Regions from separate parts of the Homo sapiens genome. Here region 1 is linked to region 2. The links come from fine-mapping of genetic effects on gene expression. A gene starts in region 2. The other region holds a variant in brackets. All regions are shown on one strand. Distances are between the middles of the regions.

The links. PIP is the estimated chance that this variant, and not a neighbour inherited with it, causes the effect.
Region 1: its variant is fine-mapped to the expression of NUSAP1 in whole blood (TOPMed, PIP 0.91).

What each region holds. Positions count from the first base shown.
Region 1 is chr15:41,481,103-41,489,437 of GRCh38, reverse strand. It overlaps RTF1 (RTF1 homolog, Paf1/RNA polymerase II complex component), which reads right to left. Exons shown (of 18, transcript NM_015138.5): 18 at 5,875-8,335. LOC105370790 (a long non-coding RNA gene) reads left to right here and starts at 3,069. Exons shown (of 3, transcript XR_932169.3): 1 at 3,069-3,208; 2 at 4,759-4,943. RefSeq lists an enhancer at 5,715-5,764. The variant G/T (reference allele first, on the strand shown) is at 4,853.
Region 2 is chr15:41,328,710-41,337,044 of GRCh38, reverse strand. It overlaps NUSAP1 (nucleolar and spindle associated protein 1), which reads right to left and starts at 4,164. Exons shown (of 11, transcript NM_016359.5): 1 at 3,995-4,164. The coding sequence starts at 4,087. OIP5 (Opa interacting protein 5) reads left to right here and starts at 4,454. Exons shown (of 5, transcript NM_007280.2): 1 at 4,454-4,805; 2 at 5,064-5,130. The coding sequence starts at 4,484. RefSeq lists enhancers at 1-306, 4,441-4,700.

The sequences.
Region 1 (8,335 bases), 150 kb before region 2:
GGGCCTAAGTGATCCTCCTGCCTTAGCCTCTCGAGTAGCCGGGACCACAGGCAGAGGCATGTGTCACCATGCCCAGCCAATTTTTAAATTTTTTGTAGAGACAGGGATCTCACTCTGTTGTCCCGGCTGGTCTTGAATTCCTGGGCTCAAGCAATCCTCCTGCTTTGGCCTACCAAAGTGCTAGAATTATAGGTGTGAGCCACTGTGCCCAGCCAGAACCTATCTTCTTGTGGTATCTCAGTTGGTTGATCCTCCTGTTCCCTACAGGTCTGCTTTTTTTTTTTTGAGGCAGAGTCTCGCTCTGTTGCCAAGGCTGTAGTGCATTGGTGTGATCTCAGCTCACTGCAACCTCTGCTTCCTGGGTTCAGGAAATTTCCTGTGTCAGCTTTTGAGTAGCTGGGATTACAGGCACCTGCCACCATGCCCAGCTGATTTTTATATTTTTAATAGAGATGAGATTTCTCCATGTTGTCCAGGCTGGTCTTGAACTCCTGACCTCAGGTGATCTGCCCACCTTGGCCTCCCTAAATGCTGGGATTATAGGCATGAGCCACTGCGCCTGGCCTGAGGTCTGCTTCTTGAAGTGCCTGAGTCTTCACCCCCATCAAAGACCTTCAGGGGTGGGCCCAGTGACTGGTACCTGTAATCCTAGCACTTTGGGTGGCCCAGGCAAGAGGATCACTTGAACCTAGGAATTTGAGGCCAGCCTGAGCAACATGCTGAAAACCCATCTCTACAAAAAATAAGAAAATTAGCCAAGCATGGTGACACATGCCTGTGGTCCAAGGTATTCAGGAGGAAGAGGTGGGAGGATCACCTGAGCCCAGGGAGGTTGAGGCTGCAGTCAGCCGTGATGAAGCCATTGCCCTCCAGCCTGGGCAACAGATTGAGAGACCCCGTCTCAAAAAAAAAAAAAAAAAAAAAAAATTTCAGGATTTATCATGACTGAGGGCTGCATCTCTTCTAGAGAAACATCACCCTCAGGTACAAAACTAGGGAAGAAAAAAGGGCCTGGAAAATGGGATGTGTGATGTGAGGGGTTTCTGGGGTCCTCACCCCAGCCTGCCTCATAGCTGTGCCCACCTCTACCCCATCCCCAGGGCAGCACCAGTGGCAGGAGCAAAATCACCACTCATCACCCTCTGCCAGGCACAGTGCTGGTTTCTGCTTCCTAAGATGACAAGCAGGGCCTTTCACCTTGGGGAGAGAAGGGAAGGCACAGCCTTTGACCTGTGCTCCTGAATGGAGCATCTGTTCCTTTGAGGAGACTTCAAGTCTTCTCCAGCAGGAGCAGAGCCTCTCTAGTGTGTGTGTGGTATGTGTCATTGTGGCATGTGTGGTGTGTGTGGGGGGTTATGTTTGTGGTGTATATGGCATGTATGTGTGGCGCACGTGTGGTATGTGTGTGTTGTGTGTTGCATGTGGTGTGTGTGTGGTGTGTGGTATGTGGTGTGGGTGTGGTGTGAGTGTGGCATGTGTGGTGGGTGTGGTGTGTGGTAGGTGTGGGTGTGAGTGTGGTGTGTGTGGTGTGTGAGTGTGTGTAGTGTGTGTGTGGTGGGTGTGGTGTGTGAGTGTGGTGTGTGTAGTGTGTGTGGGGTGTGTGTGTGTGGTAGGAGTGGGGAGGTGAGAGGGGGTTGGGCTGTCATGTTCCACTGGACCCGGTGGTGCAAGGTCTTATTCTAGTAACAACTCCCAGACATGCACTGTGGGACTTGGTGCCCTTCCAAGGGACTTTATGACCCTAAGACCCCACTATTCTGTGACAATACCTGTGATTCACTCATGCATTCACAGAGCAGACACACTTCCATGGAGCAGCTGCTATTGTGCTAGGTGCAAAGGACACAGGAATGCGTGGATCCTGTGATGCCCCCGCCCGTTTCCGGGAGTGATAGTGTATCATTTTCATTGTCTTACCGAGGAAGGAAACCAGAAAGGGCCCAAGAAGAAAACAGGCCCTGGGACGCTCAGTGGCTGCCTTCCCTCCCTTTCCAAGAGGTTGTCAATGTGCGCGCTGGGAATTTTGGTTTCTCAGCTGCTTCCTGCATCCAAAACATTCCTCACCTCTGGTGGGTTCGATGTCCTTCTCCGTCAGGGCCTACCAGAGAGGGTGCTGGAGGGCTGGCCAGAGCCCAGTGGACACGTGAGAATGGGAGAGAGGTGAGGGTCTCCTTTCTCTTGGAAAGAGGCGTGAATGGGTCTTCACCTGACAGGCGAGCCCTCAGCTCCCAGCCCCAGCCTCTTTTCCTGGCCTCTAGGTTTCCCTTCCTTCCCGGCAATCTCTGACCTCATAAATGGATTGACTAGACGTTGTGGGAATATCCAGGGATGGGTGCAAGGTTACCTCAGCAGGGCTCAGGATCTAGCAGTGTTCATTGACCCTCCACAGTCTGAGTCACTCTTGTCTAAAACGAACAAAATGTGTCACCACACCTGTGTGTGCGCAGTAAGAACATATTCTCTCCTTACACTTCAGAAACAAGGTTTCCGATCCCACTCAGGAGCCTGTGTTCCTGTGATCCTCCTTCTTCTCCAGAACTCAGAACCCTCAGAACCTCACCCAGTGCGAGGGGAGGTGAAGGGGACAGGAAGGGTCTGAGGTCAGGGACTCAGCTTGTGGAGGCGACCACTGTAGGAATGCCTGGGACGTCGTCGGGGGTCCCTGCATCGTGTAGTCATGGTGGCGTGTGATGGGGGGAGGCGGGGGTTAGGAGGCGCCTCCTAATTCCATCTGTGAGCTCTGCGCCTGCAGGCGTGACCTCCACACCTCGGGTGTGCCTGGGGACCGAGTCCACAGAGCATGCAGTGGCCCGGGGTCTGGGACCGTAGTGCCCATGCGTCTCCGCGTGGGCCGCGTGCGAGCCGGGGTCCAGCTCAACTCCCAAGGCGCGCGCCCCGGGGGATCCACGGCTGGAGACGCATGCAGGCCCCGGGCCACTGGGACCCTGGCTCTGAGGCTGCGGGCCCGGAGTGGGGAACGAGGGCAGAGCGCCCTGGAACGCAGCGGCCGCGCGCCTCCTCCCTTGCTGCGTGGACTGGGCGCTAACGGCGCAGGAGGCGCACGGGGCCAGGGATGCGGGGACCGTTGGCGCGGACAAGGGTGGCGCCCAGGCCGGTGCGGGGGGTGGTGGAGACACCAAGCGGGGAGCGCCGAAGGGCTCTCCCGGCAAAACTGATGGAGTCAACCTGAGGCTTCCGGGCTTGCCAGGTGAAGGGCTGTGCTGCATCGCACGCGCTTAGCGAAGCAGGGCTATCCATGGCTAAAAGAGAAAAAGAAATCAAAAGTATTCGATTAAAAAAAAAAATAGAGGCCGGGCGTGGTGGCTCACGCCTGTAATCCCAGCACTTTGGGAGGCCGAGGCGGGAGGATCACAAGGTCAGGAGTTCAAGACCAGCCTGGCCAACATGGTAAAACCTCACCTCTACTAAAAATACGAAAATTGGCCAGGAATGGTGGCACATGCCTGTAATCCCAGGTACTTGGGAAGCTGAGGCAGTAGAATTGCATGGACTTGAGAGGTGGAAGTTGCAGTGAGCCGAGATTGCGCCACTGCACTCCAGCCTGGGCAACAGAGCGAGGCTCCACCTCAAAAAAAAAAAAAAAGAAAGAAAGAAAAAGAAAAAAAGAAATGGAGTCTCGCTATGTTGACCAGGTTGGTCTCGAACTCCTGGCCCCAAGCGATCCTCCCTCCTCGGCCTTTTAAAGTGCTGGGATTACAGGCAGGAGCCATGGTGCAGGGCCCAAAAGTATCTATCTTTTGAAGAAGTATCAAGGTAATCATCATGGGAAGGGTCAGAGCTTTGTTGTGCTTCTTTTACACTTACCTTCTGGTTTGGTACTATTGGTGCTATTTTGAGTATTCACTACTCTTGGGGGTTGTGGGTAGGTCGGGCCTCAGTTGGGGCCAGCTGGAGGGTGGTAAGGTGGCAAGCCTTCAACGCCTTCAGAAGCCTGGTCAGTAAAGGTGGTGTGCGTTGGCCTGTGGGGAATGACAGCAACGAGGGCCTGGCCCAGAGGCAGCACACTTTCTCTGGACGCATCCCTAGGCCAGCCCAGGGTCTCCCAGTGGGAGCCTCCATCTGGAGTCAGGGTTTCTTCCCCCCCTCCCAACCCCAGCCCAAGTGGAGTTTCTGGTCCTGCCCACTGCCCAGTGCTTCCGCCCTCCATCAGCCCACTCCAAGGGCCGTTCCTCTCCTCCAGGGTCCAGCGGCTTCACTCTCATTAACAACAGCATTTATTGGACCCCTACTGGGGACAGGTTGTTTTTTGAAAGGTGGAAAACTTGTGGCTCAAAGGTGTTAAGTAGCTCAGCCCTAGGTAATAGCAAGTGGCAGAGCGGGGATCTGAACCCTTTCCCGAGCCTGGGTGCCTTTTGGCTCTTGGCCCTCCCTTGTATCCTGAGCATGGTCTGGAAGCCCTAGACATGCCTATCTATGCTCCAGTGCCTAAAAGCCGTATCTCCATGTTCCCTGGGGCTGGCCTGTGGAACCTTAGAGAAGGCATGCCTTTTGGCCCTGTCTTAGCACTGCCATTCCCTTCAGCTCCTTAACACCCTCCTTGCCAAGGGAGCTCAGCAGTCTCCGCTTAAGTCAGGGAAATCGTGAAAAAAATTTGAGCTGGGAGTTGATGGCTTCCTAAGGCTGCTGGATCACAGCCACATTATAGTTACTGAAGGAAGATCTCCCTTCTGGAAAAACGTGGCCAGGGAGATGAAGTTGACCAACCCAGCACCCTTCTTCTCTCCACTTGCACCCCAGGTGTTCTTTCTGGATTCTCAGAGATAGGTAGCAAGTGGCTGCCCCACAGCACCCAAATCCTGGAAGATAAGCAAGCTATGTTGTCATCTGCCCA[G/T]AACCCCTGCTCTCTAGGTCCCACTGCTCCCACCAGTTAGGTAGTGGGAGTGCTGGGGAGTTGGAGAAAACCTCATTGGACGCACTTGCAGGTAAGCAACCTCTCCACCACCAGAAGCGGTCTTGGACGTGGCTCTTATCACTGTGATTGCCATCCCTTGCCTTCTTAAAGGGTGTGGAAGATCCAGGATCTTCTTGCTTCCTAGCTAAAATGTGTTCAGAAAGGTTGGAGACACAGCCTCAGGCACTGGGGATGGGGAGGCCTATAGACCTCCCCAGCATGAGGGGTGCGTGGATGAAGGAAGATCAGTGTTTCCTCCATAGCCACACTCATGGCCCTTGGGCACCCCCTTCAAACTCATGATAGCCAGAAAAAAGAAGAGCAAAGAAACTGTGCCTAGGCCAATTTAAAGTTGAAAGGAGCTGAGCACAGTGGCTCATGCCTGCAATCCCAGCATTTTGGGAGGCTGAGGCGGGAGGATCACTCGAGGCCAGGAGTTCAAGACCAGCCTGGGCAACATAGCAATATTCCGTCTCAACAGAAAATTTAAAAATTAGCTGGGTGTGATGGTGCATGACTGTAGTCCCAGCTACTTGGAATGGTGAGGTGGGAGGATCACTTGAGCCCGGGAGGTTGAGGCTGCAGTGAGCTGTGATTACACCACCGCACTCCAGCCTAGACAGCAGAGACCCCAGCTAAAAAAAAAAAGGTTGAAAGGCCCAGATTCTCACTAGGGTTAGGCAGTACATCAGGGGTCTACTTAGCTCTGTTAAAACTTATTGGTCTCTTACCAAGACAGGAAGTAAACCAGGACAACTGGAGGTTTCCTTGGGTCTAGGCAACTACCCTACCAGAGAGGCTTCCGGGGAACCAGGCTGCTAAAGAGTTGACGATGGCCACTTTCACTTTTGTGGGCACAGGGCTAAGAGAAGAAGGAAAAGGAGCAAGAGAGGTTCTCTTGGACTTTCAAAACATGGCTTTAGGAGTTGCCACTCAGGATGCAATCCTTAGACTCAATCTGATCCCTTTGTTAAAATGGCATAACATTTATTTACAATATTGGTACAGTTTGAGTGGCAAGTCAGGACTTCACAAAAGCAAAAACATTCTTTTTGAAGGGAGTGGCAGGCAGTAGACTTTCCCTACACCTGCCAGAAGCAAGACAGACAAACAGACCTATAAACATTATGAACTAGGCAGATGGACACTGGCCTTTTTGCTTCTTGGAAGGAACTGAAAAAATGCATAAAAACAACCTTGGGTGCTGCACCCTTCAACACTGAAACCACACTGTGGAGGGAGGAGGGGCCCAATGAGGGAATTCCCCAGCACAAGAAATAGTGTGAACCACCAAGAAATCCTAGTTGGTAGGACAAAGCCAGTGTCTTAATGCCTGACCAAGATCTTGGTTCAGAGGCACTGCCTCAGCTGAGATTGGAGACAAGTCCTTAGTCTTGGTCCCAATCACTACAGAGGCTACTCGGGTGGAAAGATACCCTTCGGTCTTCTTTGGTTGGCTTTTCTCCCTGCTGTGTGCATTGGCATCTCGTGGGGGTTTCAGCGGCTACATGTGGGGAGGTGGTGGCAAAGTGGCTACAGTGTGATGCAGTTTTAATAAAAATTTTATTACACAGCCATAATGTAATCAACACTTCTCCAAATCCAAATGATACTAAATACAGATCTACATGGTGGATCAGAATGACTCCAGCGAATTATCTGGATTCTATAATTTTATGTTTTTTAAAACCAGAAATCAAAAAAAAAAGTCCAAGTTCATCATGATAGGAGAGGTCCCAGCAGCTCCAGGACTCTGCTGAAGTCCAGGCAATGTTAACAGTCTGTGATTCCACATTTACACAATAGTCTATAAAGAGTTTCGGTCAATGGACTATTCAAGTATATATGATTTTAACGAGTCCATCACCACTCCTTTGCCCAAGTGAACTGTGTCACAGCTACCACAAAGCTGTGTTACAGTCATATTTAGCAATTTTACAATCATAATACTCCTTTAAAACCATCCATTGCTGCTTTAAAAATAAAAAAAAAGTAAACTAAGTTAAAGCGACACTGAGGCTCTACTAAACCCAGAAGTTACCAAGTTCATTTTTATGTTTAAATACAACTTACAAGTCCATGATTTCCCATCGTCCCCCTTCCTTGTACGAAAGCAGGGTGAGGAAGTACAAAGCAGAGCTTTTAGATTAGTCTCTCGTGGAGATCGGAGCTCTCAGCTGTTCCTTTAGCTTAGCTCTTGGTATATATAGTCAGCTGTACTTTGTTCTGAAAGATTTGTTAAATGCCACTTTTATTTACACTTGGAGCTTTACACCTGAGAGTGATTATCAAGCAGTCAGTTTATCTCTTTTCAAACATTTCATAAAGACATACACACACCTCTGCTGGCTTCGCCCTAGCTGCACAATATATATGCTGACCATATATATGTATACACACACACAAAACTGCACATGCTTGAAACATTTGCAACCTAAATCTTTTTGAGGCGGAGTCTCACTCTGTCACCCAGACTGGAGTGCAGTGGCACGATCTTGGCTCACCACAACCTCCGCCTCCCAGGTTCAAGGGATTCTCCTGTCTCAGCCCCCCGAGTAGCTGGGATTACAGGCACGCACCACCATGCCCGGCTAAGTTTTGTAGTTTTAGTAGAGATGGGGTTTCACCGTGTTAGTCAGATTGGTCTTGAACTCCTGACCTCAGGTGATCCACCCGCCTAGGCCTCCCAAAGTGCTGGGATTACAGGCGTGAGCTACTGCACCCGGCGTAACCTAAATCTTTTTGTGTTTGCTCTCCACATTCATATTCAGAAATTTCTCTTAAAAACAAAATGTAGTTCTTGCCAAAGCAGCAAAACAGAATCACCAGGAAGAGGCTGGTATACTGGGTGAGAAAAAGAAGTTCTACGTTCAGCCAAGAAGCTGTGGGCTGTACCCATGGGAAGAGCAAGACATTCACTGCCCTCCCTGGTACCTGGCCATGGGCTTCCCTCCCACACCTGCCAGGACACAGCCTGCAGGTCAGGGGGCTAAACTGGGGAGTTTTCTCCAAAGTTGGGAAAGGATGGGAAGAGTAGGTGGGAATGGGGAAGTTACACAGCTACAGCAGTCAGGCCTGTTTAGTAAGAAGAATCACATTTAATGAGTTTCTTTCTTGCAGTTTCAGATGCTCAAGTACAGCTGAAAAAAATCTGAAACAGCTATAGACCCATGACAGACTGATACAAAGAGTACTGCATTTTAAAAAAATGATAAAAAAATCCACACACTTACACACACACACATACACACTCTCGCTCTCAAATTAGACCCCCCCCCCCCACAAATGTACACTTTTTGGAAACTAAACTGGTTTTGAAACCCCTTCTTCCAAAAAGAAGGGCAGAAGAGAAAGATGAAGAGAGGAAAGAGGATCGCAGGTGCCCAATCCCCGCTCCCCCCACAAGGTCACGTGCCGAATGTT
Region 2 (8,335 bases):
ACAGAGCAAGACCCTGTCTCAAAAAAAAAAAAAAAAAAAAAAAAAGAAAAGGAAAGGAAAAAAAGGGGGGGATTTGGTGGTTGAACGATAAGGCAGTTTTCTGTTGATTGCATCTATTTTCCCATGACCTATGAGGTAAAGTCATCAAGGGAGGGAAGGGAACCAAGTTGAGTCAAGATGATAAAAAGTAATTATCCTCAAAAGTAGGAAAGTTCATGACTAAGAAGAAAATGGGCCAGGTGTGGTGGCACGTGCCTGTAATCCCAGCTACTTAGGAGGCTGAGGTGGGAGGATGTCTTGAACCTGAGAGGTTGAGGCTGCAGTGAGGCCTGATTGTGCCACTGCAGCCTAGGCAACAGAGCGAGACCTTATCTCAAAAAAAAAAAAAAAAAAAAACCAAAAGGAGGAGGATCAAATGCCCATATTAAGGTTTAGCGTTGCATATTTAAAATAAGTTCGCTCAACAAAGTTAGGTGTTTTCTCCAACTAGAGTTAGCTGCAGAGGTATAGGCAAAGATTAAGCACATAGCTGGGTTTAATCAGGCTTGGGTTTTGCCAGGTGAGTATAGGGAGGTGCAAGGAAGTGGAAATAGTGCCAGTGTTTGTAATTTAAGCTCGCAAGAAAGGAAGTGAGGGCATGAGTGACAACAGGACCAGTCGCCCCACTAACATTAATAACTGGCTCCTTCAAATTGCTATACCATTAAGAGAAGTCTCTCAAAAGAGGGAATATTATCTCCTATATATTTATTATTATTATTATTATTATTATTATTTTTAGACGGAGTTTCGCTCTTGTTGCCCAGGCTGGAGTGCAATGGTGTGATCTTGGCTCACTGCAGCGTCTGCCTCCCTGGGTTCAAGCAATTCTCCTCTCCTGCCTCAGCCTCCCGAGTAGCTGGGATTACAGGTGCCCCCTGCCACGCCTGGCTAAATTTTGTATTTTTAGTATAGATGGGGTTTTGCCATGCTGGCCAGTCTGGTCTCAAACTCCTGACCTCAGGTGAGACACCTGCCTTGGCCTCCCAAATGCTGGGATTACAGGTGCAAGCCACCATGCCCGGCCATAAATTTATTTTTAATAATATCATACTAGTAAAATTATCAAGATTTGATTAAAATAAAACATTACAATTTAAATAAATTTTACTAGTACAAATATACTAGTATACATAAAAATATAGTATATTTAGTATATTTATATTTATACTGGTATAATATAGTATATTTAGTATATTTATACCAGTATAATATAGTATATTAGTATATTTATACCGGTATAAATATAGCATATTTAGTATATTATACCGGTATAAATATAGTATATTTAGTATATTTATACTAAACATACATACTATATTTAGTATATTTATATTTAGTATATTTATATATTTAATATATTTATATATAGTATATTTAGTATATAGTATATTAAGTATAGTATTTATATTTATTTATAGTATAATATATTTAGTATATTAAATATATTTAGTATACATATTAGTATATATAGTATATTTAGTATATAGTATATCTATACTAAATATATATACTAATACACACTAAATACTAAATATGTAAATTTAGTATATTTATATAGTATATTTATAGTATATTTATCTAGTACATATAGTATATTAATATAGTATATTTAGTATATATAGTATATTTATATATTTAGTTTATTTTAGTGTATTTAGTATATTTAGTATCCTAGTATATTTATATATACTAGTATATATATTATATATTTATACTAGTAATAATATATATAGTATATACTAGTATAAATTATAAATTTTATTAGCATAATTATACTAGTATATTTATGCTAGTAAAATTTATTTAAATTGTAGTGTTTCATTTTAATCAAATCTTGATAATTTCTCAGAGCAATTTATTAATTTTTTTGCTATGTACTAAAATTTCAAAAGGCAATTGACTTAATGAGCTCTTAGGTTGTACCAAGTTAATAATTTAAAACATCTTATTATGGAAAATTTCAAACCTAAAAAAGTAGAGAGAATAGTGCAATCCCCCCATGTACCTATCTCCAGTTTCAGTAATTATTAACATTCTTCTGTTCTTACTTCATCTAGTTTCCCTCTCTTTTTCCTTGAGTATTTTACAGCAAATTTTACAGGTATCATAACATTTCACCTATAAATACTTGATTCACATATAAATACTTGATATGGGCCAGGCGTGGTGGGTCACGCCTGTAATCCCAGGACTTCGGGAGGCCGTGGCGGGAGGATCGCTTGAGCCCAGGAGTTCAAGACCAGCCTGGGCAAGATGGTGAAACCCTATCTCTACTAAAAATACACACACACACACACAGCCAGGCAGATAAAGGAGAAAGAAGGTGATCTGAGGCTAGAGGGTCAAAATGAGCAATGGGACAAAGATAGATAAAAGTGCCAAGTGTTCAGGGATGCAGCCTTGGATAAAAGATTCTAGCTAGGCAGCAAAAAAGCCTAAGGAATTTAGGCTGAGATATTAAGGCTTTGTTTACGAAGTATAGAGGAGCCACTAACCACTACAGCCCAGAAATATCCCCAAGGAAAACCCTTTGGTCATTCAGCCCCAACAGGCACTTAGGCCCTGATTATTTTGTTTAAACAATTTAGGTCGGGTGGGGTGGCTCACGCCTGTAATCCCAGTACTTTGGGGGCTGAGGCGGGCGGATCAGGAAGTCAGGAGTTCGAGACCAGCCTGACCAACATGGTGAAACCCCATCTCTACTAAAAATACAAAAATTAGCCAGGCGTGGTGACACGCGCCTGTAATCCCAGCTACTCAGGAGGCTGAGGCAGGAGAATCGCTTGAACCCAGGAGGCGGAGGTTGCGGTGAGCCGAGATGGCGCCACTGCACTCCAGCCTGGGCGACAGAGCAAGACTCCGTCTCAAAGAAAAAACAAACAAACAAACAAATAAAAAAAAAATTGTGACGATTGATTTAAGCATTTACTCACTGTCAGTATCACAGCCTGCAGGAGAAACCTCCAGAGTATATAGCAGTATTATGTGGGAAGTCTCAACTATTAACAAAATATATAAAACCGCTATCCTACATTAAATCCCCAAATCTTCTTCTAACATCTTGGGTTTTTTGTTTGTTTTTGTTTTGTTTGAGACTGAGTCTCTCTCTGTCACCGAAGTTGGAGTGCAGTGGTGCGATCTTGGCTCACTGCCACCTCGGCTTCCCAGGTTCAAGCGATTCTTCTGCCTCAGCCTCCCAAGTAGCTGGGATCACAGGCAAAAAGCTTGGATCACAGGCGTGTGCCACCACGCCCGGCTAATTTTTTAAGGGCCAGGCTGGTCTCGAACTCCTGACCTCAGGTGATCCGCCTGCCTCGACCTCCCAAAGTGCTGGGATTACAGGCGTGAGCCACAGCGCCGGGCCAACTCTCCAAACATCTTGTAGCCTCGGAGTCAAAGACCTTACTGGTTTTGATAGAGACCATCAACCCAACAGTCATCAATAAAAATTTACCCAAGGAGGTGCTCCCCTAAAAGTCGATTTTTTTTTTCTGACAGGTCCATCAATAAAGTATCAAGAGATTATCGGCAATATTACAAATCACTGGAGTCTGTTTGGGGTTTTCCAGAAGCTGAGCCAATTATTTACTTAATTGTCTAACGATTAACGACACCCCTTGTGCTTTCTGGGCCTGAGTTTCGTAATCGACGCCCTGAGAGGTATACAGTAATTTCAAAACAAAACAAAACAAAAAACAATAAACCATCCCTCGGAATAGAGCTTATCATGTGAGCACCCAGACAAGCCAGCTTCAAAATGAGGTGAAAACTACAGTTCCTCTTCCGTTTATCAGAGTTCTAACTGGGACTACCGTGAACCACATCTACTGCCCGAGGGGCAGGGAGAGCTGCCTCAGTCCCGGGCTTCCCTCTCGGTCCCTTCGCACCGCATCTCCCCGAGGCCGCTATTCCCGCCGCGCCCGCCCAGGGACCCGCACCGCCAGCGCCGTACCCTCAGGTTGGCCCGGAGACCCAGACTCTTGGCTAAGTTCTGCAGGTCACTGTACTTGAGGGAGTCCAGCTCCTCTAGAGAGGGGATGATCATCGCGATTCGAAATCCCGGCGATACTCGGAAGATGGATCACCAAACTTCGTCAGCGCGGTTCAAATCCCTGGCGCCACTCTTAACTTTGACTAGGCAGAAATTTATAGACAGTTTAAATGAAGAATGCCGCGCTTCCATTGGTTGAAAATGCCTCAAAGGCGGGGTTTCTAACCCTGACCAATAGAAAGGCTGATTTCCCGTCCCAACAGAGGCGCGCTTTTTTCACACTTCACGAATACGCAGGCGCCAAAGGGCCTGTAACGCCTGTTCAGGTAACGAGTGCGCGGACTCGGACTCCAGTGCTTGGATTGCCCATGATGTCCAATGAGGACGCAGGAGCTGTGCTTGGGGCGGGGCCTGGCGTGTATTCGAAAGGAAGGCGCCGGCTGCGGGAAGATGGCGGCTCAGCCGCTGCGGCATCGCTCACGTTGTGCAACGCCGCCCCGGGGGGACTTTTGTGGTGGCACTGAGAGGGCGATTGACCAAGCTTCTTTTACGACCTCCATGGAGTGGGATACGCAGGTGGTGAAGGGGTCCTCGCCGCTCGGCCCCGCAGGGCTGGGGGCTGAGGAGCCAGCCGCCGGCCCGCAGCTGCCGTCTTGGCTGCAGCCTGAGAGGTGCGCTGTGTTCCAGTGCGCACAGTGTCACGCAGTGCTCGCCGACTCGGTGCACCTCGCCTGGGACCTGTCGCGGTCCCTCGGGGCCGTGGTCTTCTCCAGTGAGTGCAGTGAAGCGTTCGGGAAAGGCAGAGGCTAGCCCGAGAGGGTGTTCCCGCTTTCTCCACCGGGTGGCGGAGAACCACCTGGGGAAGAAAACGGGATGAAAAGTTGGAAGCAAATAACTCCTTGGCCTGGGGATGGGGCAGGGAATCGGGGAGTCTCCTGATATTTACGGCCAGGATGAGTCTGTCTAGAGGAGAGATTTTCCATTTCAAGGCCCGCAGAGTATGGGTTCTGACCCGTGTTTGTCTTCCTAGGAGTTACAAATAACGTCGTTTTGGAAGCGCCCTTCCTAGTTGGCATTGAAGGTTCACTCAAAGGCAGGTACGTATTGATAATTACATTGGTCTCTAGTCCCTGACTTTATGAGACTGAGGATCGTGGAACTGACATGTACGAGGAGAAAACAGTTTGGGATGCTGCTTTTACCTGTTTGACTCTTATATGAACTTGATGTATTAATGAAATGAAAAAGTTGTATTTGTGTATTGGTTTTAGGATCTTCCTGAGGGCCACTTCTCCCAGGTGGCTTGTACAAGTGAAGTGAGGCTAAGAAAGATGTATCTAGTAGTGGACAAAAGAAAAAAATAACCTTTTGGTTTACAGTGAGAATAACATACTATAAACTACAATCCTTTTAGATATTAGAACTTTTTGATACAGGGTCTTGCTCTCGCCCAGGCTGGAGTGCACTGGTGCGCTCATAGCTCACTACAGCCCCTACCTTCCTGGCTCAAGCTATCCTCCCAACCTCACCCTCCGGAGTAGCTGGGACTACAGGCACACAGCACCACTCCCGGCTAATTTTTAAATTTTTTGTAGAGGCCTTAGTATGTTGCCCACGCTTGATATTAGAACTTTTAAGTTTGCGATTATGGTTAGTTTGTAATAAGCTATGCCAGGGCTAATTCTTCAGTAACCCCAGAAACTGGAGAAAAACACAACTAGAATGTTATGTACTTGAATACTGCCTGGTAAACTTTGCGACCTGCCTGTACTATGATTTACAAGTGACAATAAAGTAGTCAGTGAATTTGGTATTGCAAGGCTCCTCAATTTTGAGTTTTGGCTTTAACATTGAGACAATTCATTTCATTCTGACCAGTTTGATTCAACGTTACGGTTAAAATATAGGAATTCTTAGTTGCTTTGTCCAGTAACCAGGAAGATTTCTGCAGCTTGGACAAACTTCAAAAACGGAGTTAGACCCACAGCTCCCTTTCTTTTTCCTGAATAAAAGACACTCCCTATCGCTATAGGAGTCCCCTTCCCACCCAAAGGGGACAAAGCAAGAAGGAGCAATTGCCTGCTTGGAATTGGGTGTATTCTGGGGCCAGAGGCAGAAGGTTCCTGAATGTGCTCTTGGAGAGGAGGCTAATGAATCTAGACCCGTGCTGTCCTATACTGTAATCACTAGTCATATGTAGCTATTATATATTATTAAATCTGCATTGAGATATGCTGTGAACACAGAATACACACTGGATTTCAAAGACTTAGTACAGAAAAATTAATCATTTACAAATACTGATTACGGGCCGGGCGTGGTGGCTCACACCTGTAATCACAGCACTTTGGGAGGCCGAGGCGGGCGGATCACAAGGTCAGGAAATCGAGACCATCCTGACTAACACGGTGAAACCGTGTCTCTACTAAAAATACAAAAAATTAGCCAGGCATAGTGGCGGGCGCCTGTAGTCCCAGCTACTCAGGAGACTGAGGCAGGAGAATGGCGTGAACCCGGGAGGCGGAGCTTGCAGTGACCGAGATTGCGCCACTGCATTCCAGCCTGGGCGACAGACTCCGTATCAAAAAAAAAAAAAAAAAAATACTGATTACGGCTGGGAGCGGTGGCTTACGCCTATAATCCCAGCACTTTTGGGAGGCCATGACAGGCAGATCACCAGAGGTCGGGAGTTCGAGACCAGCCTGACCAAAATGGAGAAACCCTGTCTCTACTAAAAATACAAAATTAGCCGGGCATGGTGGCACATGCCTGTAATCCCAGCTAGGCTGTAATCCCAGGAGGCTGAGGAGGGAGAATCGCTTGAACCCGGGAGGTGGAGGTTGTGGTGAGCCGAGTTCACGCCATTGCACTCCAGCCTGGGCAACGAGAGCGAAACTCTGTCTTAAAAAAAAAAATTGATTACATGGTGAAATGACATTTTTGATATATTGGGTTAAATAAAATATTTAAAAACTAATTTCACCTGTTTTTATTTTATTTTTTAAAGCAAAATTAGGCCAGGCGCCGTGGCTGATGCATGTAATCCCAGCACTTTGGGAGGCCAAGGCGGATGGATCACGAGGTCAGGAGTTCAAGACCAGCCTAGCCAAGATAGTGAAACTGTTTCTACTAGAAATACAAAAATTAGCTGGGCGTGGTGGCGGGCGCCTGTAATCCCAGCTACTTGGGAGACTGAGGCAGAGAATTGCTTGAATCTGGTAGGCGGGGGTTGCAGTGAGCCAAGATCATCCCACTGTACTCCAGCCTGGGCAACAGAGCGAGACTCTTCCTCAAAAAAAAAAGCAAAATGAATAGAAAATTTAAAATTACATATGTGACTCACATTATATTCCTATTAGACAATGCTTGTTTAGATGCTTTGTAAAAAACTGGAGGAAGGCCAGGTGCAGTGGCTTACACCTATAATCCCAGCACTTTGGGAGGCCAAGGCAGGCAGATCACAAGGTCGGGAGTTCGGGACCAGCCTGGCCAGTATGGTGAAACCACGTCTCTACTAAAAGTACAAAAATTAGGGGGGCGAGGTGGCAAGCGCCTATAGTCCCAGCTACTTGGGAGGCTGAGGCAGGAGAATGGCTTGAACCTGGGAAGCAGAGGTTGCAGTGAGCCAAGATCGCACCACTACACTCCAGCCTGGACGACAGATCGAGACTCCGTCTGAAAAAAAAAAAAAAAAAAAACTAGAGGGAAAGCCCCATGTGTTTCTGTATTTGTGGAGTAAGATGAGCTATATGGGACTTACGAAGAGGGTTATGAAATGGCACAGCTCAAGACAACTTGATTTTTTTCTAAGTGTAGGTTCATTACCTAGATGGGGTCAGAGAATGAATTAAGAGGATGATTAATGATGCAGCTAAAAGAGCATAAATTTTAGAGACAGCAGACTCGGGTTCTTTTTATTCTTTTTTTTTTTTTTTTTTTTTTTTTTTTGAGATGGAGTCTTGCTCTGACCCAGGCTGGAGCACAGTGGCGGGATCTTGGCTCGCTGCAACCTCCGCCTCCCGGGTTCAAGCTATTCTCCTACCTCAGCCTCCCGAGTAGCTGGGATTCCAGGCGCACGCCACTATGCCTGGCTAATTTTTGTATTTTTATATTTTTAGTAGAGACGGGGTTTCACCATGTTGGCCATGCTGGTCTCGAACTTCTGACCTTGTGATCCACCTGCCTCAGCCTCCCAAAGTGCTGGGATTACAGGTGTGAGCCACCGCACCAGGCCTTAACTTTACTCTTAATGAGGCATGTGAAATAAATTGATCCCTCTCAATCTGTCATATTTGAATACTC